2 separate regions of the Homo sapiens genome follow, and region 2 is linked to region 1. The links come from fine-mapping of genetic effects on gene expression. A gene starts in region 1. The other region holds a variant in brackets. All regions are shown on one strand. Distances are between the middles of the regions. Region 1 holds the start of RAB44 (RAB44, member RAS oncogene family). Region 2 overlaps RAB44 (RAB44, member RAS oncogene family).

Region 1 (12,201 bases):
AAACTCCTCAACTCTCTCACTCCCTTACATAGTTAATACCTTTTGCTTCCTCACCTTACAGGCTGCCTCCTCCAAGAAGCCTTCCCTGCAGTCACCCCTGCATTCAAGCTGGGCTCAGTGCCCCCTTGTCTGCAACCCTGCTATGGTTTGAATGTGTTCCCCAAAGTTCATGTGTTGGAAACTTGATCCCCAGTGAAGCAGTGTTGGGCGATGGGGCCTGATGGGAATTGTTTGGGTCATGGGGGCACCGTCCTCATGAATGGATGAATGCCATTATTGTAAAAATGAGTTCCTTGTTAAAAGATGGACTCAGACCCTCGTGCTCCCTGTCGTCCTTCTGCCTTCCACCATGGGAAGACACCACAAGAAGGCCCACGCCAGATTCTACCTCCTTAATCTTGAACTTTCTAGCCTCCAGAAGGATGAGGAAATAAATTTCTGCTCTATGTAAATTTCCCATTCTATGGTATCTGCGGTAGTACAAAACAGACTAAGGCAGGCCCCATGCTGCCCCAGCTGTGGATATCACTGTTTATCTAGGTCCATACTGCTCCCCGCCCCCTTAGCACATGTCAAGTGCTCAAGTAAGGGGTGTCAAATTCATTGTTCATTCACCTGTCACTGAATGTCTTAGTTCAGTCAATTGATAAGGATTTTGATGGTTGGGGATTCATCCAGGTGAGGCCCCTGGGGTGAGGAAAAGAGAGGCTGTGGTTTGAAAGGGATAAAGTCTGAGCCTGCTTTGCGGGAACAAGTCTGGGGCCCATAAAGCTATGGGATGAGAAGGACTTGATGTCCAGACAGACAGGGCAGCTTCCTGCAAGTGGTGGGGCTTGTGCAGGTTCTGCAGGAGGCATGTAGGATTTGGAAGCAGTAAACAGTGTGTGTGAAGGAATCGAGGCAGAATAGTAAGGCTCATGCCCAGGAGATGGAATAGATATCTCCCCTGGGCATTCTCTGTTGAGGCCGAAGGCCACAGACAGGCTGGGTGGAGTGGTTAGAGGGCTCTGCTTTAGGCCTCATGGGCTCATTCCAGGGGGTCATTCCACGGCCTCCCCTTGGGCAAGCTTCCCAAGGGGAACGGCACAGGTTGCACAGAACTGGATGAAGCAATCTCTCATCCTTAGGAGGCCCCAAACTTCAAACAGAAGTACATTCTCTCTCTCTCTCTCTCTCTCTCTCTCTCTCTCTCTCTCTCTCTCCCCCTTCGAAGTCTGTTTCAGATGAAGTTTTAAGATCATAAATGTAAAACCGCAGTGGTGAGCTGGAGTCCACTATTAGGGGCTTGTGAGGGCTGACTGTGCACACCCCTTCCTATCCCAGCAGCTTGGCATCAGCCACTGTGGGAGTATTGGCACCATGGGAATCAGCAAATGCCATGAATCAGGTCTCCTGCCCCCACCAAAGAATAGTCACCAGCACACCTCTTCTGAAGACTTTCATCTGCCCCAACCCTTCCCACCCTCTATCATGCACATAAGCAACAACCATTTACCGAGCGCCAACTGAATGCCGGTACAGTGCTAAGCAGGCCCGCTGCAATCCATATGTTTCCTTTAAGTGAATTAGGAAAAGGTACTTCCTGCTGGCAGACACAGCCCAGTGCCAGGGCTCATGGTTTGACAAGTGGAATGTGGGCTGGATTCCAGTCCCCATGCACCCCCTTGGCTGGGCATCCTTGTGCAGGACACACCTTGTACACCCCAGCAGAGTCCCTGGCCCTGCAGGTAGAGGTGTGACTAACTCCTGTTCTCCCCTAGGGGTCCTCACAGCCTCATGCAGGAGACACAAACATAATTACAGTGCAGCACAGAAGGGGCAGCATACCTGTGTGTCAGGTGCTGGGAGAGCACTGAAAAAGGAGCAACTCACTGATCAGGGTGTCAGAGAGGGCTTCCTGGGGGAGGTGACATAGCTTAGCAGTGAGCTCCAGGGCAGGAGAGATTATACTTAACCCTGATGCCCTCATAGTGCCCAACCTTGCTTAGGATATGTACTGGGCTCTCAACCCACTTCCTCTGCTGATTCATGGTCCCCTAGAATGTGGAATGTTCTAACAGACAACTGAAGAGACTCAGAAAATATCACGGCCAGACACAGTGGCTCACACCTCTAATCCTAACACTTTGGGAGGCCAACGGGGTGGATTACTTGAAGCCAGGAGTTTGAGACCAGCCTGGGCAACATGATGAAACTCCATCTCTATCAAAAACAAAAAATTAGCCAGGCATGGTGGCGTGTGCTTGAAGTTCTAGCTATTAGGGAGATTGAGGTGGGACAATCACTTGAACCCAAGAGGCAGAGGTTGCAGTGAGCCAAGATTGCACCACTGCACTCTAGCCTAGGCAACAGAGTGAGACACTGTCTCAGAAAAAAAGTCTTTCTAATAAAAAGCAGGGAGGCAAAAAAGCCAAGAATGAGGAATAAGATTCTACGGGTTAGAATAGGGAAGTCCCCATGCTAATCTAACTGGCCTTCACGCGGTATCTCTCACCCCTAATTCATCCCATGTTGCTCCATGGAAACAGTGACCACATAGATACCCCTTCTTGGGCCTAGAGGCCTTCCACACCTAGAAAGACACCATCTATCTCCATTCCCCATCCCCCCTAAGAGGGGAGCCCCCTCCCTCCATGGGCCTATGACCCTTCTTCAGTGGCTAATGGGGTTTGGCCTGGCAGTTCCAGCCTTGCAGGTTACACTCAAAGAAAGACTCCCTGTAGCATAGAAGGGGATTAATAAACAAAACAACAACAACAAAATAAGCTGGGCGTGGTGGCCTGTAATCCCAGTACTTTGGGAGGCTGAGGCGAGAGGATCACTTGAGCCCAGGAGTTCAGGACCAGCCTGGGCAACATAGCGAGACCCTGTCTCTACAAAATAAAATAAAACTAGCTGGGCATGGTGGGGTGCCTGTAGTCCTAGCTACTTGGGAGGCTGAGATGGGAGGATCACTTGAGCCCAGGAGGTCAAAACTGCAGTGAGCTATGATTCACCACTGCACTCCAGCCTGGGCGACAGAGTGAGATTCTGTCTCAAAAAAATAAAAAAGTAAAATTAAAAGAAAGACTCACTGAGCCTCAGAACTATGAGGGTCAGTCCCACTCTCGTGACCTGGAGATGCAGAAAAGGAGGCTCACAAGAGAAAGTGACTTCCAGTCCCATTGCTGTGAAGTCAGACAGACCTCTGCTTCTCCCAGCTCTGCTGCCCATGGGCTGTGCAACCTTAGGGAAGTCAATCAGCATCTCTGTGCCTGAGTTTCCTCACTGGAAACTTAGGACTAATATCTCTCCCACGGGGATGCTGCGAGGATTAAGCAAGATAATTAAAGTTGAAACATCAGTTCCCATTCCCCAGCATGGCCCACCTCCCTTTCCAGCTTCACTTTCTCTTAGCACTTGTCACCTTCCCAGAATAGAGAGCCTTTTGCTCGTTTTTGTTGTAAATTTTCCTTCTCCTCATGCTGAAATAGAGGCCTCACGTGAGTAGGGAGATGACCATTCTGTTCACTGTTCTATCCCAAGAGCCTAGAACAGCGCTTGGCACACAGTTGGTACTCTGCAAATATTTGCTGAATATATGATCCACATAAAGCCACTTAGGAGTGCGCTTGGTATCAGTGACTACCAGGTAAAGGTAGCAATGACAACAGTGGTGATGATATTGATAAAGGTGAATTCTATTTGAGGCACATAAAAGCCAGGTTCCATGCAGATACAATTGATCCCATTTGACAGATGAGGAAACTGAGGGAGGTTCCAAGAGGCAGAGTGACCTGCCCCAGCCATGATGTCAGTGGTAGAACTACACCAGACTCTGCTCTTCTGGTTGGTCATGGGATGGACTTCCCCAAGGCTACAGAGGTGGCTCTTCCCTGGGCAGAAGGCCCCTCTGGGGATGACAAACACCCAGTGGAGTAGCCCTGAGTGGGACAAGGGCTTTGGAACGGGGTGGGCGTTGACAGGCTTGGCTCCTGTGGTGACGCCCAATGTCTCATGTACTTCCGGCAATGGAGCTAACACGGCCAAGGGAGCAAGATAAGATTCCCTGTGCAGAAGCCTCCAGAAGCAAAGTCCACTGTGATGTGAGTGTCACATCGCAGCCTGCCGGGCTCCCACAGGTGTAGGATGTTAGAATCCTGGAAGAAATTCCCTGCAGCCACATCCTAGGACATGTGGCATTCCTGACTTTCCTTTCTGGGAGTTCCTAGCCAAGCTACACCTCCACAGCCCATTTCCAGCAGTCCCCTGGCATTTTTTAAGAAAATAGCACCTTCCAGACACCTCGCCTGCCCCACCTCAGCATCTGCCCTCTCTGCCAGTCAATCCTTCTCTCCCAGGAGGGGTACTCAGCCACCCGCTCCTTGCCTGACAGGTGGCCTGGGGCAGGAAGGCAGCAGGTGCCCTCCAGCCATCGCCACCTCAAAATCAGTCACTTGTCACCATCAGGTGGGATGGTGCACTCACCCCTCGTGCCTTCACATTCAGATCCCTGACAGCACCCCCACGGCCTGACAGCACAACCTAAAAACAGTCTGTGTCCCTTCTAGGCCAGGCCTGGTCCCTCAGAGACAGCAAGGACATCCTTCAGTCAATCCACAAATGTACACGTGCAAACGTGCACGCACACACACCCTCCTTGGCCATCATCCTCACCCTCCAATCCCTCACCATCAGCCTCTCAGTCAGACACAGCACCCCTCACGGCCATTCCATCATTCCATTCTGCATGTGCAAATGCCGTCGCCCAGCACACACATCCCTCCGAGTCAGCTGGCAGGGCCACCCTGCCAGCGCCCTTCTCCTCCACCACTTTCCCCTTAGTGCATCCTCATGCCTCACGTCCTTAAGAGTGGGGGACCCCTTCATGGCTAGGACACACATATAGCCCCTCAGCATGACCACCTCTCCCCACATCCCTCACCTAAGAAATCGCATAAAACTTGAAGCCAAACATGAGAGCAAATGAATCCCACTCCCAAGCACCTGCGGGAATCCACTACCACCGTGGTATTCTGTTAGGCAGCAGGCACCACAGGCTGCCCACCAGGAAGTGGAAGCCAGAGAAGAAGAGTGGGGTGGGGCAGCAGGCAGCAGCAGATTACAACCTGGCATGGGCCCTGCCTGGGGCCTCCGGGTATCCATCACTGTCTCACCAAAGGGCGCTCAGAACTGGGTCTGCTCTCCACTTGGCTGGCTTCAATAGCTGTAAATAATAGCCACAGTCGCTAAACCCCAGTGGTCCAAGTCAGTGGGCCTGAGAGACCACCTAGTGTCTTGTTCCAGTCTACTTATCCTCACTCCTCCTCTCCTAACTAACAGAGAAACTGAGGCTCTGAGAAACCAGGTGACTTGCCCTAGGTCACACAGCCATTTACGGGTAGTGATGTACCCCAGCCTCTTGCCCAAGTGCTTTCCCATCCCCTCCCTTAGACCATGCAGAGAGCTCCAAATGCAGGAGAAAAGAGGGCTCTGCCTTTTGCACCCTTGACATAGAAGTTAAACAGGGACCCCAGCTCCCTCCCCCATCCTCATCCTTCCAAAGAAAAAGAAGCATTGCAACCTTGGGATGGCTCCTACCTCTCAAAGGCTCCCAGTGGAACACACAGCCCTGGGCTCTGGGACCTGGTGGTAGGGTGACTGCTGCCCTGCGGAGCCCACGAGCTCTAGAACTGTTAACAGTCTTGTCTTGCTTAATCTCCCTTTCCGTTCCCCAGCGAGCCAATCTCCTGTGCTCATCTACAGGACTTCCTGTGGAAGCGACCACTGGCGGCCCTTTCACAATTTTGCCTGGCACCCCCAGGCATCCCTGCCCTGATTGGTGTCTTGAAGTGGAGAATGCTGGAGCTGGCAGGGAGGCCCTCCTAAGCAGAGGCTCCAAAGAGTGAGATGGACTGCTCAAGATCACCCAGCCCTTAGTGGCACAGCCAGGACTGGGCCTCAGTCTCTGGTTGCCAAGGCAATGCCTTATCCCAGACAGCAGCAGGTTGATGGGCACAGCCGTGGCTGAAGCTAAGTGTATGGGATGCCCCGGGAGAACTGCCCATCCTGCCTCACTTCAGGCCCTCACTCTCAGACAGTGTCTTTGAGCCTCAGGGGAGGCTTTATATCTAAACCACCTTTTAGGGAACAATCTAGTCTGATACCAAAATACACTGTAGAGCTACAACCATCAGAACAGTGTGGAATTGGAGCATGACTATAGACAGATGAATCAGTGGAACAGAATAATGAAATAGACTCAAATATTTGTGGGACAGGAATAGACTCAAATATTTGTGGGGATTTAGTGTATCATAAAGGCACCACTTCAAATCATTGGAGAAGAGATGGTTTATTCAATAAACTATGTTGGGAGAATGGGCTAGGTATCTGCAAAAAACAAAGAGCTCTAACTCTAAAAGCATTCCAGATGGATAAAAGACATAAGCATTTTAAAAATCAAAATCACATAATTATATGTTGTTTGGGATTTACTTCAAAATTATTGAAGAGTGTGGAGAATAGGTAGGACATAGATGAAACAAGACTGGCTCTGGACCTGTTCTGATCCCTGCTGGAGTTAATGAGGGTACTGCAGGCTCATTATGTTCTTCTGCTTTTCTGTATGTTTGAACAAATGCCATAAGAAATCATGGCATAGTTCATTTGCCATGGTTGCAGAAGAAGGAAGGAAAGAAAAGGAAGGAAGGAGGGAAGGAAGGGAGGGAGGGAGGGAGGGAGGAAGGAAGGAAGAAGGAAGAGAGAGAAAGAGAAAGAGAAAGAAGAGAGAGAAAGAAAGAGAGAGAAAGAGAAGAAAGAAAAAAGAAAGAAAGAAGAAAGAAACTAAGAAAGAAAGAAAGAAAGAGAAAGAAAGAAAGAAAGAAAGAAAGAAAGAAAGAAAGAAAGAAAGAAAGAAAGAAAGAAAGAAAAAAAGAGGAAGGAAGGAAGGAAAGATAGATCTGTCATGGGATAGGCTGGGTGTGGTGGCTCATGCCTGTAATCCCAGCACTCTGAGAGGCTGAGGCAGGAGGATCGCCTGAGCCCAGGAATTCAAGACCAGTCTGGACAACATAGTGAGACCCCGTCTCCATTAAAAAATAATAATAATAAAGAAGGAGAAGAAGAAGGAGGAGGAGGAGGAAGAAGAAGAAGAAGAAGAGAAAGAAGAAAAAAAGGAAGAAAGAGATCATGGGATAATTTTTAAATAATCTTGGATTAGGCAAGGCCTTTCCAGATATATCACAAAGCATTAGAAGCCACAAAAGAAAATATTGAGCCATTCAACCATACGGAAACTTTTTAAAAATAAATAAAACTGAATGGCAAAAAAAGGTCACCACTGATAAGTCAAAAGGCAAACTCTGAAAAAATACTTACGTATCATAGAAAATAAGTTAATTTCCTCCCTCTGTAAAGAACTCCTGCAGATCAATGAAAGACCAATAATGCATTAGAGAAATTGGCACCATATGTGAATAAACAATTCATGGAAAAATAAATATCAATGGATTTAAACATATGAAAAATATTTATAAAAGTAAACATTTCTGTTTATAAAAATATAATAAGAGAAATAAAAGATAAAACTACGTACCATCACAAAGAAGATGAGGGTAAAAATAAAAAATAAAACTACACCGAGACATCATTTTCAGCTATTCAATTAGTAAGATCCAAAAAGTGATATATTATGTCATAAAGGATGTAGGAAACACATTCACACATTATTGGCAGGAATATAAACTGGTACAACTTTTATGAAAAGAAGTGTATAATATCTGTCAACATTTAAAATGCAAAAATCTTTCTACCCAGCAATTTCACTTTCAGTCATTGATTCCACAGATGATATACAATATGACAGTATGGAAGGATACTCATTACAGTATTGTCTGTGGTAGCAAAGGATTGGAAATGATCTAAATTTCCATCAGTAGGGAGCTGGTTAAATGAGCTCTGATACATCCGAACATTGGCATACTCTGCACCGTGAAGAAAATGAGAAAGATCCAGGTGGAGTGATATGGAATGACCTTCAAGATATTGTGTCATATGAAAAAAGTAAGGTGCAGAACAGTGAGGATAGTGTGCTTTTTATGAAGAAAAAAGTGTATGTGTGTGTATGAAATATATGCAATAGATAAGGGCCGTGATATAGTTAAGTTTTATGTCCTCACCCAAATCTCATCTTGAATTATACTCCCTATGTGTCAAAGGAAGGAAGTGATTGGATTATGGGGGCAGTTTCCCCCATGCTGTTCTCGTAACAGTGAGTGAATTCTCAAGAGAGCTGATGGTTTTATAAATGGCAGTTTTTCCTGTGCTTATATACTTTCCTCCCCTGCTGCCATGTGAAGAAGGTCCTTGCTTCCCCTCACCTTCCGCCATGATTGTAAGTCTCCTGAGGCCTCCCCAGCCATATGGAACTGTGAGTCAATTAAATCTCTTTCCTTTGTAAATTACCCAGTTTCCGGTATTTCTCTATAGCAGTGTGAAAATGGACTAATACAGGCCAGGTGAGGTGGCTCACACCTGTAATCCTAGCACTTTTGGAGGCTGAGACAGGCAGATTGCTTGAGCCCAGGAGTTAAAGACCAGCCTGGGCAACAAGGTGAAACCTTGTCTCTATAAAAAATAAACAAAATTAGCCAGGCGTGGTGGCGCATGTCTGTAGTACCAGCTACTCGGGAAGCTAAGGTGGGAGGATCGCCTGAGCCCTGGAGGTCAAGGCTGCAGTGAGCCGTGATTGTACCACTGCACTCCAGCCTGGGCGGCAGAATGAGGCCCTGTCTCAAAAAAAGAAAAAAATAGATAAGCACACACATTCATATATGATTGTAAATGCATAGAACATTTCTGACAGGATATACAAGAAACTAGTCAGATTTGGGCTGGATAGAAGTGTTGGGATGGAGGAGGGGGCAGATTTATGTTTCACTGTTTACTTTTAATGTATTTTATGTTGTGTACTATCTGTATACATTACCTATTCAAAAAGAAACTTAACAATAGTATGTACATATACAAAGAGAGACTGATGAAGGAAACATGGTAAAATGTTAACATTTAGGAACAATGGTAAAGGGTATATGGGGATTATTTTACTATATTTGCAACTTCTCTGGATGTATAAGATTATTTCAAAACAAAAAGTTTTAAAAATTATTAAATTTAATTTCTAAATAAATGAATATTCTCACAACCAACTATCTGAGGAAATTGATACTCAGAGAGTTTCTGAGGCTTTATTGAACTAAATAAGGTACTCATTTATTTATTATTATTATTATTTTTGAGACAGGGCCTCACTCTGTTGCTTAGGCTGGAGTGCAATGGCACAATCATAGCTCACTACAGCCTCCCGGGCTTAAGAGATCCTTACACCTCAGCCTCCCAAGTAGCTGGGATTATAGGCATGCACCAACACACCCAGCTAATTATTGTATTTTTCGTAGAGATAGGGGTTTCACCATGTTGTCCAGGCTGGTCTGGAACTCCTGGACTCAAGTGATCCACCTGCCTCGGCCTCCCAAAGTGCTGGGATTACAGGCACTAGCCACCGCACCCGGCTTATTTATTCAACAAATGTTTATTAAGCACTTCTAGGTGCTGGACACTGTGCTACGAAATACAAAATATAGAAAATATAGAATATGAAAATGTAGAAAAATGTAGGGTAAAAAAAGCCATATGTAATATAATGCCAAACAGTGGTAATTGTTTTGAAGAAAAGCAAAGTAGACTGAAGGGCTAGAATGGTGGTGTGAGGTGTATTTTAGATGAGGTGCTCAGGGGAGGCCTGAGGAGGTGATGTTGGAAAGGACATGTGAGAAAGAAGATCTGGAAGAAGAGGTTCGAGGGGGAGGGAACGGTGAGTGCCGAGGCCCCGAGGCAGGAGCACGCTTTGTGTGCAAGAGAAACAACGAGGAGAGCTCCATGGTGGGAGCACGCGGGAGAGGGAAGGATGGGCGGAGATGGAGACAGAGGAAACAGGCAGGACCCGGAGACCATATGGGCCCATTTGGAGGGCGACATGAACCGACTTAGGTTTGAAAGGGATCCCCCCGCTGCTTTCATTCTGGAGAAGAGGCTGTACTAGGCAAAAGCAGCAGCAGGGAGACCCATGAGGAGTTAACATAATCCAGACAAGAGGCAGTGGCTTGGCCGCGGAGGGCAGTGGTGGAGGTGATGAAAGGTGGCTGGACTCGGGATATGTACTGAAAATAGGGCCAGCGGGGCTTGCTGCTCTATCTGGGCAAATGCAACAAGTCCAGGACCTTCTTTGCAGCAAAGGACTCTCTCCACTCCTCTGAGAACAGAGTGGGGTTGGATTTTTAAGGCCCAGCCCTCAGGATCTCAAGGCATCCTCAGTTTATTTGCCCCCCAACCCTCACCGGCCCTGCTCCCCACCATGGAAATAAAAGGGACATGGGGAAGGCAAGAGTGGTCACACCCTCGCGGGTGGAGCCGGAGTGCCAAGGAGTCCTGCGGGTGCTGAGAGCTCAGCCTGGCCTTGTCCTTGGCACCAGCCCCAGGGAAAAAACCTGCCAGGACACACCAAGCGCTAGGAGAAAAATTAGATCCAGGCACGTTTGGAAACGATGGAGCTAACTGAAAAATACGATGTTGCTGAACTTAAAAACACTGTGCTCGGAACTAGGTTTTGCAAAAATAGAATCAATGGACAAGGATCAAGGGCAGTGAAACTGTTTTACAATTAGGAAAGTTTTCACACTCACTAATTTTTAATTCCTTACAGATGCTTGAAAGCTCTTCACAGCTTGTTAAATCCTGAAGCAACAAACTCTCCATTCTAGGGCCCTGCAGTGTGAGCTGATGTGCAAGCTAGGACCTGAGCCTCCCTGCCTCCAGCTACTGACTCCAAAATAGCTCAAGGAGCTTAGGCAGGTGGGCAATCCCACAGAAAACCAGGGTCAGGGAGCTTGCTTCAAAGCTGCATTTGGGTAGCATTTTACATAAGATTGAGAAAACCTAAGTTACATCAAAGACTGAGGAGGTGCACAGAAAGAGGTGGGTCCCTGCAAGCCTCCTCTTAGAATTGTCACGGCAGCAGTGGCCCTGGGTGAGGCACTTCCCCTTTCTGGTGTATTGAGCAGGCAGTGTGATCTGGAGTCATCAGCGTGGACATCCTGGCCCCTCACCACTTCCTAGGGGCGTGAGCTCAGGCACTATCTGGCCCATATCTGTGTTCACCTAAACCTTTGGTAGATAGTTCCTGGCAGGCTAATGATTTCCCACCTCAAATGTCTTCATCCCTCTGGTTTTCTTCACCATTACAGGAATTTCTTCCACCCCATGAGGAGCAATCTGGACTAGGCCCTAGAGGCAGCCCTATCAGTGATGGACAGTGTCCTTAGATAAGTAGCCTAGATAGCCAGGTGAGTACTCCAGAGAGAAAATTGTAGGGTGTGTTCCACACGGTTTCCTTGAGGCTCCCTAGCAGGTTTAAGCCCCAGTTGCACACAGTGGAACTTGTTCACTGACACCTTTATTGGCCTTCTCCTTTTCTTTCTCACATTCTCTACTTTCCTGCTGTGCCTCCAGGGACTACCTCCCAGGCATTCCACCTGCACACAAGTCCTTGTCTCAAGTTGTTTGGGGAGTGGGGGTTGGGGGTGACTAAGACAGTTACCAGAAATGGCAGAAGCAGGATGGGCTTCTGAAAACAGATCCCTCACCAGTGAAGTGACAACGCGGACCCAAATGCTGGTAGTGAGTAAGGTGGTGATAACTCTTGGCAGACTACAGCATCACAGTGTCCACAATGTGTGTAGTGGATTGGGATGAGGCACAGGTAAAATTTCAGGGGCAACACTGACTTACACTGTAAGTCTAATACTTGAAAGATACAGGGCAATAGTAATGATAAGGATTATGGGGTTGGTTGGCTTTTGTTAATTGCCCTAGAAACCTTGAAGAAAACTCAGGGTATGTTGTGAAGACAGAACTCCATAACAGCATTCTAAATGACACTTATCTCTCATGGCCCAAGAGTAGGCTGTGCTGAAAATCAGGCCCAGGATCTGATTGTAAAAGGGGTGAAGCTTCAAGAGAGACTAAAGGCACAGCCTCAGCAGACCTACTACCCTAGGGTCAGAATTCTGATAGGGAAAGAATGGGGCATTAGGACCTGAATGGAGATATTTGGATAGACGCACTTGAGAAGCTTGTACCCTCAGCTTCCTTGAGCCTTCTAGG
Region 2 (12,201 bases), 35 kb before region 1:
CTGGTTACCTAGAGATGTGAGCTCTAGCTGAGCCATTTAGTTGCTTTGTGACCTTGTTTGGGCCATCTGCCCTCTGGGTCTCAGTCTCTCCACTGGTAAAATAGAGGGGATGGGCTGTCAGGTCCCTAAGGGTCTTCCCATCTCCCTTGAATCTCAGCGCATCCATCAGCCTATACTCTTAGACCCCCGCCAGGCCCCACAGGCCTCCTGAGGCCCTGTCACGGCCAGGCTGGACAGTCGCCACCACTGAGGCTGCCACTCCCACACCTCTGGGATGCCTGGCCATCATCGGCCTGCAGAAGAGGTCCCTGAGTCCTGCCTGGAAGGGGCGGGAGAGGTAGAAGCAGAGGATAGGGCTGACAGCGCAATTGGAGTAGGCCAGGATGGTGCAGAGGCTGGAGGCCACAAAAGCAGCCGGTGTGGCAGGCAGGTAGCCCATGGCTGCCACATAACCCAGCATGGAGCAGGGCCCCCACATCAGCACAAAAACCACCAGCACCACAAGGCTGAGCCCTATGTTCTCTTAATGCTCCTGGATGCTCTCTCCCATGGGACCTTGGGGCTGGGTCCACAGGAGCCAGCCCACGTGGCTGAAAGAGCAGCCCAGCCCCAGCGTGCATGGCAGGAAGGCCAGGGCTCCCAGCAGGCTGATGTAGCAGGAGGTCCCAGCAGGGCTCAGGAGCAAGAGGCAGGCCTGGGTCTTGGGAGCCCCCGCTGTCTCCTCCTCCACTGCCACCCTCTGGAACAGCCAGTTGGGCAGGGATTCTGTAAGGCCCAGGGCCCACATGGCCCCACAGAGCAGCAAGAGGGTGCCCCAGCCGGCTGGGAAGGCCAGGTCAGGCCGGGCCACAGCCACATGGCGCAGGAGAGCTGTGGCCACCATGCTATAGAAGATGCAGAACGTGGTGGCTGTGTTGGTGGCCTGGCTAATGGTGCAGATGGCAGGGCCCAGCCACCAGTTGTGCTGCAGGAAGCTCAGCAGCAGCACAGGCACCACGCAGGCCAGGAAGAGCAGGTCAGATGGCGTGATGTTCATCATGAGGCTGTGGGTCAGGGAGTGGAGCGGGTGGGGGGAGCCCGGGCCCCGGCCCACCACCAGCAGCATGAGCCCATTAGCTGACAGCCCCACCAGCAGGATGAGGCCACAGACCCCAGCAGAGATGAGTCGGAGCAGTCGCTCAGGTGTGGCCGTGAGCTGCGTGGTGAACGTAGCATTGGGCTCCATTCTGTTTCAAACACACAAGGACAAAGTAGAAACCAGCCAGCCCCAAAGGCCGCCTTCCCCATTCCTGCTAAGCCTCCTTTTTTCACAGACCCCCTGCATGTAGTGGGCCCAGATAAGGCCTGTCCTTGGCACACATTAGCCCCTGCAGACCTCATGACAACCCCATGGGATGGACTCCATTAGTACCCTGGGTTCAAATCCTGCCTCTGCTGCTTGCTAGCTCCAGTACCCTGGGATTTATTTATTTATTTATTTTTTTAGAAACAGAATCTCACTCTATCACCCAGGCTGGAGTGAGATCTTGACTCACTGCAACCTCCGCCTCCTAGGTTCAAGCGATTCTCATGCCTCGGCCTCCCAAAGTGCTGGGATTACAGGCGCCACCGCACCTGGCCCCTGGGAGAGTTACTTAATGTTTCTCTACCTCAGTTTCCTCAGCTGTAAGAAAGCAAGGAAATAAAATAAAACAGATGTCAATAGTAACTATCATAAGTGGTAAGACTAGGGTAATTTTCATTTTCTTCTTTAAAATTTATTTCTAAAATTTCTGCAGGGAGTACACATTGTTTTCATAATCTGATAAATATATATGTGCATACATACACACACACATATGTATCTATTTTTTGACAAAACAAAAACCCTGCCCTGTGAAACAAGCAGGTTTAATTTGAGGTTCAAATGGAAAAGTGGGTCTGAAAGGGCTTTGAGAAGGTGTGAAGCCCCTTCCAGTGGTTCCCAAGCTTCTCTGCACTTTGGGATCACCTGAGGAGTTTCACAAATACAGAAGCCTGGGTCCCACCCCCAGAGACATGACATAGTTGGTCTGGGCTTTAGCATTTTTGAAAGATCCCAAATAATTCTAAGGGCAGACCAGCCTGGGAATCATTGCCCTCTAGGTTATGCTGTGCAGGCCCCTGGCAGAGTGGGGGAGTCTGCACCCAGTGGTCAGACCTTTCTTCTCACCCCCACTCTGTCCCACATGTCAAGGGCAGGGGGAGTCCCCGATTGGGAGGACTCTGGCTACAAGATGGGATGTAGACATCCTAGAGCCAGCCCAGTGGCTGATGTCACCATTGGCCGCCCTGCAGGCCAGGCCAGGGCCCGGGAGCTTTAGCTGGAGGCTTGCCTGCTAACTCAGTACATATTTCCTGAGCATTTGCTCTGGACCAGGTTCCCGGAATCCAGCAGCAAACAAGACATAGCAGAGGAGTCCTTACTGGAGTTGCCCTCCCCTTTTCTACCACACCGGGGTGGGGGCTGGAGACACTCTTCTCCTGCGGGCTCAAAGCCAGGTTTGAAGGAGTCTCTGAGTCCCTCCTGCAGAGCCCCAGCCTGGGGAACTTGGCTTCGTCTCTGGGGCCCCAGGGCAGCAACGTGCCTGAGGGCAGCTGAGGGGAGACTGGAGAGGGGGCCTCTGTGAATTCTGATGTCGGCCACCTTCCCGGGTCCCACCAGCTTCAGAGACGGCAGGAGGAGGGGAAATGAAGGACCTGTCCTGGATGAAGGCTGTCATCCAGCCACTTTCCTGGCATTTATCACTGCCTTTTCGTCTCTTTTTCCTGGTCCACACCCACCAATGACATGGACTATTACTGGAGAGGAATTGGCAGGGAGCAATACGAGGCTTCAGGGACCTGGCCCCTCCTTCCCCGAAGCATCCGCATCTTCCTGTAAGCAGTTGCATAACTTCAGAGTTAAGTCTATGGGTATCGGCGTTTGCGTTTAACACTGGCTCCAGCACTTACTTGCTACGTGACTACGGGGAAGTTACTCAGCCTCCCTATGCAGTACTTTCCTTTTCCGTAAGATGGGGGAGCACGCCTGATGGTGTGAGGGCTAAATGAATTAACACGAGCTAGGTGCTCAGAACAGTGCCTGGCATACGGTAGGCACTGGGTAAAGGAGGGATGTCATTCTGCCCCTGCTCACCCTCAGCTCCCAAAAGCCCTCTTCTCTTAGAGCTCCTGCCCAGCCTTCCTTCTCTCCCCATGCCCTCCCTTCTCACTCCACAGCCTGAGTCCCATCAGCCCAGTCCCACCCTCCTTTTCTTAATCAGACTCTGGCTAAGCCTAAATCAGAGCCTCCTTGGCTGACATGCCCCAAGAACTCACCACTTGCCTGGAAGTTCACTCTGAAGTCTACCTCAAGTTTCTCCTGCTGCTGTCGTTGCCTACTTTGTGCTGCTCTGAGGTTCCTGGGTCCTGTTCCCTGGCTTGTGAGCCCTTTGACAGCAGGAAAGGCTGGTGGTCCTTGCACAGCTGTGCCCTGCCCAGCAGGTGGATCCGGCCCAAGAAAGCCAAAAGAGGGTGCTGGGCAGTGTGGAGTTCCTCCCAGAACTCCACCTCCTGCGAACCTGAGTTGCCTGAGGCCACAACAGAGCTGAGCTGAGACGGGGAGGCCTGGGGGCCACTCCCGTACCGGGCCCCCAAACGACAGGGGCTGTCTGCTCTACTGCCTCTCCCAGGAATCACACCCTGCCTACCTGCCTCATTAATTCCCTGGCCTACAGGACAGAGATGTTGGTGCCTGCCAGGTCCCTGGGCCCCAGAGAAAGAGCCATTAGCAACTATAGGACCTGTTTCCCATCCTTATCCAGGGCCAGCATCACTCACTGCAGCCCACACCCCTCTCTCTCTCTCTCTCTCTCTCTCTCTCTCTCTCTCTCTCTCTCTCTCTCTCTCTCTCTCTGAGCACACTGAGAAACTGCTCAGTTCAGGGGCAGGCTTGTGGGCTGCGGGAGGGGACCTGAGATGGGAGAAGACATTGGGGTAAAAAGGATCAGTGAAGGGCCCAGTAAAAGAATCAGCTGGAGGGCCGGGCGCGGTGGCTCATGCCTGTAATCCCAGCACTCTGGGAGGCCGAGGCGGGTGGATTATGAGGTCAAGAGATCGAGACCATCCTGACCAACATGGTGAAACCCCGTCTCTACTAAAAATACAAAAAATTAGCTGGGTGAGGTGGCGGGCGCCTGTAGGCCCAGCTACTTGGGAGGCTGAGGCAGGAGAATGGCGTGAACCCGGGAGGTGGAGGTTGCAGTGAGCCGAGATTGCGCCCCTGTGCTCCAGCCTAGCGACTGAGTGAGACTCCGTCTCAAAAAAACAAAACAAAACAAAACAAAACAAAAACACACAAAGAATCAGCTGGACCATGGGAATCATCCACATGGAGTCTGGAGGTTGAATGGGGTCCATTAAGGGAATCTAATCCAACTTTGGCAGCTTCAGATGCTGGGATCTTCTCTACCTCACCTTTGCCAAGCATTACCTGTCTTCTTGTGCGCCTCTGGTGATGGAAGGCTCACTGCTGCTGAGACGTTCCTTTCAGAACTGAGAAGAGGGGTTGGGGCCAGGGCCTAAGACTGTGTGATGCAACAGCCCTCTGTTGCTCCCTCTTTCTCCTTCGTTCTCTCTCTCTGTAACTCTGTTCCTTGAACTGTCTTTGCTTGTCCCCCTATGAAACTGGGGTTTCCATTGATTCAGCCAGGAAATTCCCCAGTACCTGAAGGATTACAAAATACCAAACCCAGGCTGGGGGCGGTGGCTCACGCCTGTCATCCCAGCACATTGGGAGGATCACTTGAGCCCAGGAGTTTGAGACCAGCCTAAGCAACATTGCAAGACCTTGTGTTTGCAAATAGCTAAAAAATTAGCCGGATGTGGTGGCATGTGCCCATGGTCCCAGCTACTTGGGAGGCTGAGGTGGGGGAATCACTTGAGCCCAGACAGTTGAGGCTGTTGTGAGTGGCGATCATGCCAATGTACTCCAGCCTGCGCAACAGAGAGAGATCCTGTCTCAAAAAACAAACAAACAAATTCAGTGCCTGGCACATGTTGTATATTCAATTTGTGATGATGGTAAGATGTGACAGACATACAAACGAAGACCATGGCCGTCTCTCCAAGACTCTAAAGCAAGCTCTCCGAGGGCACTGGAAACCCCAGCCCTAGCTGATAAGGGGCAGCCACCATTCAGGAGGTGAATATTATGGAATTCTGGAAACTTCCACAAAAGCTCCAAATAGAAGTGTGTGAATGATTCTGAGTCTCGGCTCCCCAGCTGCTTGGACCCCCCAGCCACACCCTAGCTGCCCCTCAAATGCATCCAGAGACTGACAACTCAGGCCAAAGCCCTGTGCTTGGGGACACCATGGCATTGGAGCAGGGGGCGGGACCCCCAAATGTGACCCCTGGGAGGTGTGTTTTGTATGGTGGGGAAAGGGAGTGAGGTTGGGGCTCTGGAAGACAGGAGGGCATCGAGGCATATCAGAGGCCTTTGGAACATTACTCTTCCCAGGAACCAGATTCTGCTGGGAAGAAAGCCCATGCTTGCAAATAGAAATAGCGAGGGAGACCAGGCCAACAGCGCCCTGCCAAGCAGAGCACAGAGGGACCGCTCTAACACCGAGCAACATGTGATTAACAGGTTACACTAATTAGGAGCCAGCAGCACCCAAGGGAGCTCCTTGGGAAGTTTCTCTCCTCCTCCTCCACATCTCTTTTTTCTGATTATGTATTGAATACTGTTATTGTTGAAAATCTGAAAATACAAATATGTGTAAAATGGAAAGTAACACCCCCCCCCCACATTCTCCCTAAAATTTTACACCCACAGATGTGCGGCCAATATTTTGGTGTATTTTCCTTAAGTCGTTTTTCTAGACTTTCTTTGTTTGGAGAGTTTTGCCATACCCCTGCCCCTCAAGCCTTGTTCACTCAGCAAAGCCCTCCTTTGGAGTGTGAAAGGCAGAGGTGATGCGGCCCTGCTCTGGGATCCGAGTCCTGAGTTGAGAAGGGTTTTCCTGAACCTCCAAGCTGGTCCTCTGTGTCGTTGCTGTCCAGGAACAAAGGACAGGAGCTGAGGGACAGGAAACCCCATGGGTGTCCATCCTACCCAGGACAGGACAGGTGATCAGGAGCAACAGCCGAATCTCTTGGGCGGCCTCTTGGGGGCCACCTTCACCAGCGAGTCCTTCAGGCCTTCTTCTTGCATCCTGAGTGACCTATGTGACAGTGCCAGGCATCAGGCCTCTCTCTCACCTCCTACGGGCAGCACGGATGGGCCCATGGGTGCAGCTGGGGGGTGGGAGGCCGCACCCACAACCCCCACAACAGCTCTGCCCCTGCCCTGCATTCCACATGAGACCCGAAGAATTGAGTCACTGAGACTTTGACCTTCTC[T/C]TTCTGGCCTACTATGTGCCAGGCACTGTGCAGGACTCTGACTATGACAAAGAAGCCACCATTCCCTCCCTTGAGTAGTGAGAGAGACAGACAGGAAAAGGGGTGACTGCAGCCCGGGAATGATGGGGAGGCACACAGGGACTTCACACCAGGTCCTGGAGGGATCTGGGGAGGAAGGAGATGGTGACCGAACTGAGCCATGGACAAGGTATGCCAGCAGAAAGGGTGGGGGAGGTGCATCCCAAGCAGAGGGCCATGGCGCGGCTCAGTGCCGAGAGAGCTTGGAGGCTGGGGAAGCAAAAGAAGTCCATTCATTTCTTCGTGATATATTTACTGTGTGCCAGATGGTGCTCATCTGATCTAGCTCCCCTCATGCCTTACTCATTTTATTCATTTATGGAGCACCTAGGTCCCAGGTATGGGGAGAGGGGCTGAACAAAACAGACATGGCCCTGCCTTCCTGGACAACAAGAAAACAGATAAATGCATATATCATTAATATGTGTCGTGTCAAGAAGGGCCATGAAGGACACAAACAGGGGCTGTGATCCAAAATAGTGATGGCAGGTGGGTGATCAGGGAGGGAGTCTCTGAGTGGCTGGAACTTGGCAAGTGTGTGTGTGTGAGTGTGAGTGTGTGTAAGAGTGTGAGTGTGTGTGGGTGTGAGTGAATGTGTGTGTGTGTAGGGGTGGGGGAGATGGCACTAGAGATGCTGCAGGCCATTGCAAAGCATTTGGATTTTAATGGAAGCTACTGGAAGTTTGGGAGCAGAAGAGAGACACTCCTTTTCTCAGCCCTCTTTGCAAATGAAAAAACTGAGGCTCAGAGAGCCTAAGTGCCTGTGGGGAGTGATTCAGCGAACGGGAAGGGCAGAGCTGGAGTCAGGAGACTCTCAGTGCAGGGCTCTCTCTCCCCTCAGACTGGTGAGCCCAGGTCTTTAACTAGGTGCTTCCCTGACCCATTTCCTCAGAATGGGCCTTCCTGTCCCACCTGGGAGTCAAGAGTGGGGCCGGAGCTGTCCCAGAGGATTCTGCAAGGGGGGGGGTGGGGGCGGCGGGGGGCGGGCAGCACTTACCTGGCCAGGTTTACTACAGGCTCCAGGATGTTGTGACCCAAGGCGGCACTGCACTCCCCAAAATAGACCCCCAGTTCCTGCAGGCCAGACAGGGAGGGACATATGTGCCTTGGGAGAGACAACTGAAAGGCCAGGCCATACCCCGCCACTAAAGTCCCGGCCATCAGAGTCCCAATGCATCCCTAAGCTGACCTCAGTGGCGAGCAAGACAGCCCCATCTCAGCGTGGGCCACGGTCCCTGCCTGGAGCCCTTTGCCCACTGTCCCTTCACCCCGGCTGGCCAAGGTGTCAAGGAATGCATTGAAGAGACATTTCACAGCCTTCGGAGTGGCATGGGAAGCCTGCATCCCAACTTGGAGAAATGCCCCTGGAGACATTTTATAAATGTTAGTTATGTTTTTTAATTTCAGAAATATTTCATTGGGGGAATATTGGAAGATATAGTATAAGACAGTACCAGCTCAATATCTAAACCACTGCTGTTAGTGTTTGGGTAGATATTGCCATTCTGTTTTATATAACCCTTTTACGGGGCGGGGGCTAACTGTCCTGTACAGTTAGGTTAAACCACACGAAATTGCTATTTTTGGCAAGCTCCAGTCAAATATCAGCAATTTCATATGTTTCAACCTAACCTATATCTAGATTTGTAGCTGCTTATATGATTTTCTATTATATTGTAAGCATTTCCCCCACACCCTTAAATATTTTTCCAAGACAGGATTCTTAATGGCAAATACTAACCTCTCACATGAACATCCACAGTTTAACCACCAATTGCTGCCAAATGTTTGTTCTTATAAATAATATTTGAAAACCCTCATATAAACCTGTTCGATTGTACGTTATACATGGGTATCCATTAGGTGTTCCTTTAGGGATTATTACTTCTGAGTCTTCCCTTACGATAAATTGCTAGAGGATAAATTACTATGTCAAAGGGATGAGTTACTACTTTTAAGAAAAAGGCCGAGCATGGTGGCTCACGCCTGTAATCCCAGCACTTTGGGAGCCCGAGGTAGGCAGATCCCTTGAGGTCAGGAGTTCCAGATCAGCCTGGCCAACATGGTGAAACCCCGTCTCTACTAAAAATACAAAAATTAGCCGGGCGTGGTGGCACATGCCTGTAATCCCAGCTACTAAGGAGGCTGAGGTGGGAGAATCGCTTGAACCCGGGAGTCGGAGGTTGCAATGAGCCAAGATCGTGCCACTGCACTCCAGCCTGGGTGACAGAGCAAGATTCCATCTCAAAAAAAAAAAAAAGAAAGAAAGAAAGAAAAAAAATTCCCTTCCAGCAGGAGCCACAATGATGACCTCACAATTTACGGGAAGTGGGAAGAGAAACAGGAAGGAAATACAGTAGGAAGATGCCAAGAGGGGTTGTGTGAGAGGTGGGGCGAGGAGTGATTTTTCCCTCTATTTTTATTACTCTCCAGATTTTCTGGAATGTGGTTAAATGCCATTCATGAATAGATAGTGTTCACTGTCTGGCAGTGGGGCTTTTGATGTAATCATCCCAAGGGAGAATTTGAGTCTTAAAATAGGAGAACTTAGAAGGCAGCACGTTAATTAGAGACCAGAGATAAAATTAAAATTTGATTGGGAATTTTAAGCAAAGCTTTCAAAACCTTTTTACTCTGAAGCTATTTCTTATGTAGGTGGGGACATGGTGTGGGAATGTGCTAATTCAACAGTGAGGTTCAGTGTCACGCCCGCCACTCCAGCCTTGGGTTTGGGCTTAAAGCGCATCTCCAGAGGCCAGGGCTGTGTGGGAGGCAGAGGTGGCTAGGCTGCTGTCCACTCTGAACAGGCCTTTGGTTGGGGCAGGGGCAGGAATGGGCCACGGGTTCTTCTCGGCTGCCCAGGTCAGGTGATGCCTATCCACCACCTGCCAGGGAGGTGTCTGCCCAGTCCACGCACAGAGACGGGCTGATGCCCAAGTGCTTACCTGGGCCAGTTGCTGCCCAGCTTCCACGGACACTTGCCGTTCCTCCTCACAGTCCATCTTGTTTCCCAGGAGAAGGATGACCACCCCATCCGACCCTGCATCCTGCACACAGAACATGTTCTGTCAGCCACACCCACTGTGTGCCAGGCTCCTGGCACATTTGCCTTCCTAGAAGCTGAACTGTGTCCCCCGCATGTTCCCCCTCCCAGGCCACATCCACTCCATAACCTTCTCACCTGGACCCTTTCCCCCATCCTTCCTCTCTGCTGATAAACATCTCACTTATTTTCCAAGGCCAACCTTAAGAACACCTCCCCCAGGAAGCCTTCCTGGGTTGTTCCTGCCCATGTCCTCTCTTCCTGCCTGTTCTGAACAGTCCAGCACTTGATTATACATTTTCCCAATTGTCTCATGAATAATAATAATAGTTTCTGATTAGTGAGTGATTGCTATACACCAGGTGCTGTGCTGAAAGCAATTCTATCAATTAATTGTCACAACTCCCCTATGAGAGAATTCCAGAAATTGAAGTTCAGAGAACTCAATTCACTTGTCCAAAGTCACAGAGTTCGGGTGGGTGGGATTCAAATGTAGGTCCTGTCAGACCCCAGTGCTCAGCTCCCCTCTTCACACATTACCTTATCCTGCTTCTTTTGCTAAACTAGAAACTTCCAGAGAGAAGGCAACATGGCTAACTTCACACCCCTCTGCTGTGCTAGTACACACTGCAGAATTTCAGTATATATGCTTTGAGGAAGTAAGCAGGGGAAAAACTAGAGATGTGTGAACAGAGGAATTACCACATGGAATGGCACAAGAACTACATTAGCCTCAAGTGTAAGAAGAAGACATTACAAACAGCTGCCATATGTAGGAAGAGAATGTTCACAGGATAAAGGAAGTAGTTTGGTTTGAAGTCTGTACTATGTGGTTGTGGTTTCTTTGTACTACTGCATTCCCAGCTCATCCAACCACATGCCCTCAGTGGGTGGTGTCACCCATATGTCTGTCATGTCATTTGTAATCCTGGGAGAAAAGAGGGAGTGGGCAGGATATAAGATCCCTCTTGACTGGAGGGACTGGGGCCAACCCCAGCAGCCATCTGCTCACCTGGAGACAGTCTAGCCAGTAGCGCACGTGGGCAAAGCTCTCCTGGGAGGTGATGTCGTACATGAGCACCACCCCGTCAGCCTTGCGGAGCAGCTGTCGCGTCATACTGTGGTACCTGCCCAGAGAGTCTGCATGAGGCCACACCAGGCATCCAGACCCCAGGCCCTGGCCTCTGCAAAGTGGGAGAAGTAACCTATCCTACTTCTAATTGCTTCCCACAGAGCATGTCCGTATGCTTTTCTTCGTACAGTGTAGTTATTGTTGACTAGGTAACAGTTCTCATGGCTCAAATTTCAAAAGGTCTCAAGGAGAACTCAATGAAAAGTCTCCTTCCTTCTGCCCCATCCTGGAGCCACCCAGTCCCCCTCCCCAGAGGCAACCAGGGTTATCAGTTTCTTAAATATTTTTCCAGAGGCATTTTACGTATATACATATATATACACACACATATATACACCCATACACATACATCTTTCCCCCTCTATTTTATACAAATACAGTGTAAAACATTCATCATACTCATTAATATTCAGTGTTCTGCATTTTGTTTTTTTCCAGTTAACAGGATGTCTTGGAGAAATTTCCCTATCGGGCTGGGCACGGTGGCTCACGCCTGTAATCCCAGCACTTTGGGAGGCTGAGGCAGGAGGATCACTTGCGGTCAGGAGTTCCAGATCGGCCTGGCCAACATGGTGAAACCCTGTGTCTACTAAAAATACAAAAATTAGCTGGATGTGGTTGTATGTGTCTGTAGTCCCAGCTCCTCAGGAGGCTGAGGCACAAGAATCACTTAAGCCCTGGAGGTGGAGATTGCAGTGAGCTGAGATCACACCACCACACTCCAGCCTGGGTGACAGAGCAAGACTCTGTCTCAAAAAAAAAAAAAAAATCCCTATTAGTACATAAAGAGAGTCCTCAGTCTTTGTGTGGCTTTATGGTGTTATACTGGGTAGATTGACCCTCCTTTATTTAACTGGTCCCCTATTGATGGACATTTAGGTTGTTTCCTATGTTTCATAACACAAGTGAGAATACTATGACTGGTCCTGGTCCCTTTGTTATTATAGTCATATGAGTCTATTTATAGAATGAATTTCTAGAAGTGGAACTGCAGAATCAAATAAGATATGCCTTTTAAGTTTTTATCACTGCCAGGTGCCGTGGCTCATGCCTGTAATCCCAGCACTTTGGGAGGCCGAGGCAGGTAGATCACGAGGTCAGGAGTTCGAGACCAGCCTGGCCAATATGATGAAACCCCATCTCTACTAAAAATACAAAAATTAGCTGGATGTGGTGGTGGGCACCTGTAGTCCCAGCTACTCAGAGGCTGAAGCAGGAGAATCGCTTGAACCCGGTAAGTGGAGGTTGCAGTGAGCCCAGATCACGCCACTGTACTCCAGCCTGAGCAATACAGCGAGACTCCATCTCAAGAAGAAAAAAAAATTTTTGATCACTACTGCCTAGGTTGAAAGTAGAAGACCAGCATTTTTAGAAGGACAGGTGATTGGGTGGCTGTCCCCTAATGACCATGTTGGGAAGCCCTAATATATGCCCTGCCAGGCTGAGGGACCTCTGGCTCTGCTGCCCTCTCTCCCCTGCCTTGGGCTTGACTCATCTCTCCTTCCCTGACCTCCTGAATCCTTGGGGGGCAGTTGCCTCCTGC

The links. PIP is the estimated chance that this variant, and not a neighbour inherited with it, causes the effect.
Region 2: its variant is the best candidate, but not a certain one, in a credible set for the expression of RAB44 in lung (TOPMed, PIP 0.79).

What each region holds. Positions count from the first base shown.
Region 1 is chr6:36,691,295-36,703,495 of GRCh38, reverse strand. RAB44 (RAB44, member RAS oncogene family) reads right to left here and starts at 5,670. Exons shown (of 14, transcript NM_001257357.2): 1 at 5,581-5,670.
Region 2 is chr6:36,726,029-36,738,229 of GRCh38, reverse strand. It overlaps RAB44 (RAB44, member RAS oncogene family), which reads right to left. Exons shown (of 14, transcript NM_001257357.2): 11 at 10,539-10,653; 12 at 9,429-9,530; 13 at 7,481-7,557; 14 at 5,046-6,227. The coding sequence ends at 6,137. It also overlaps the pseudogene GPR166P. Among named protein-coding and RNA genes, the nearest start is that of RAB44, 34 kb to the right of the region's middle. RefSeq lists enhancers at 2,469-2,970, 11,432-11,571. The variant T/C (reference allele first, on the strand shown) is at 6,406.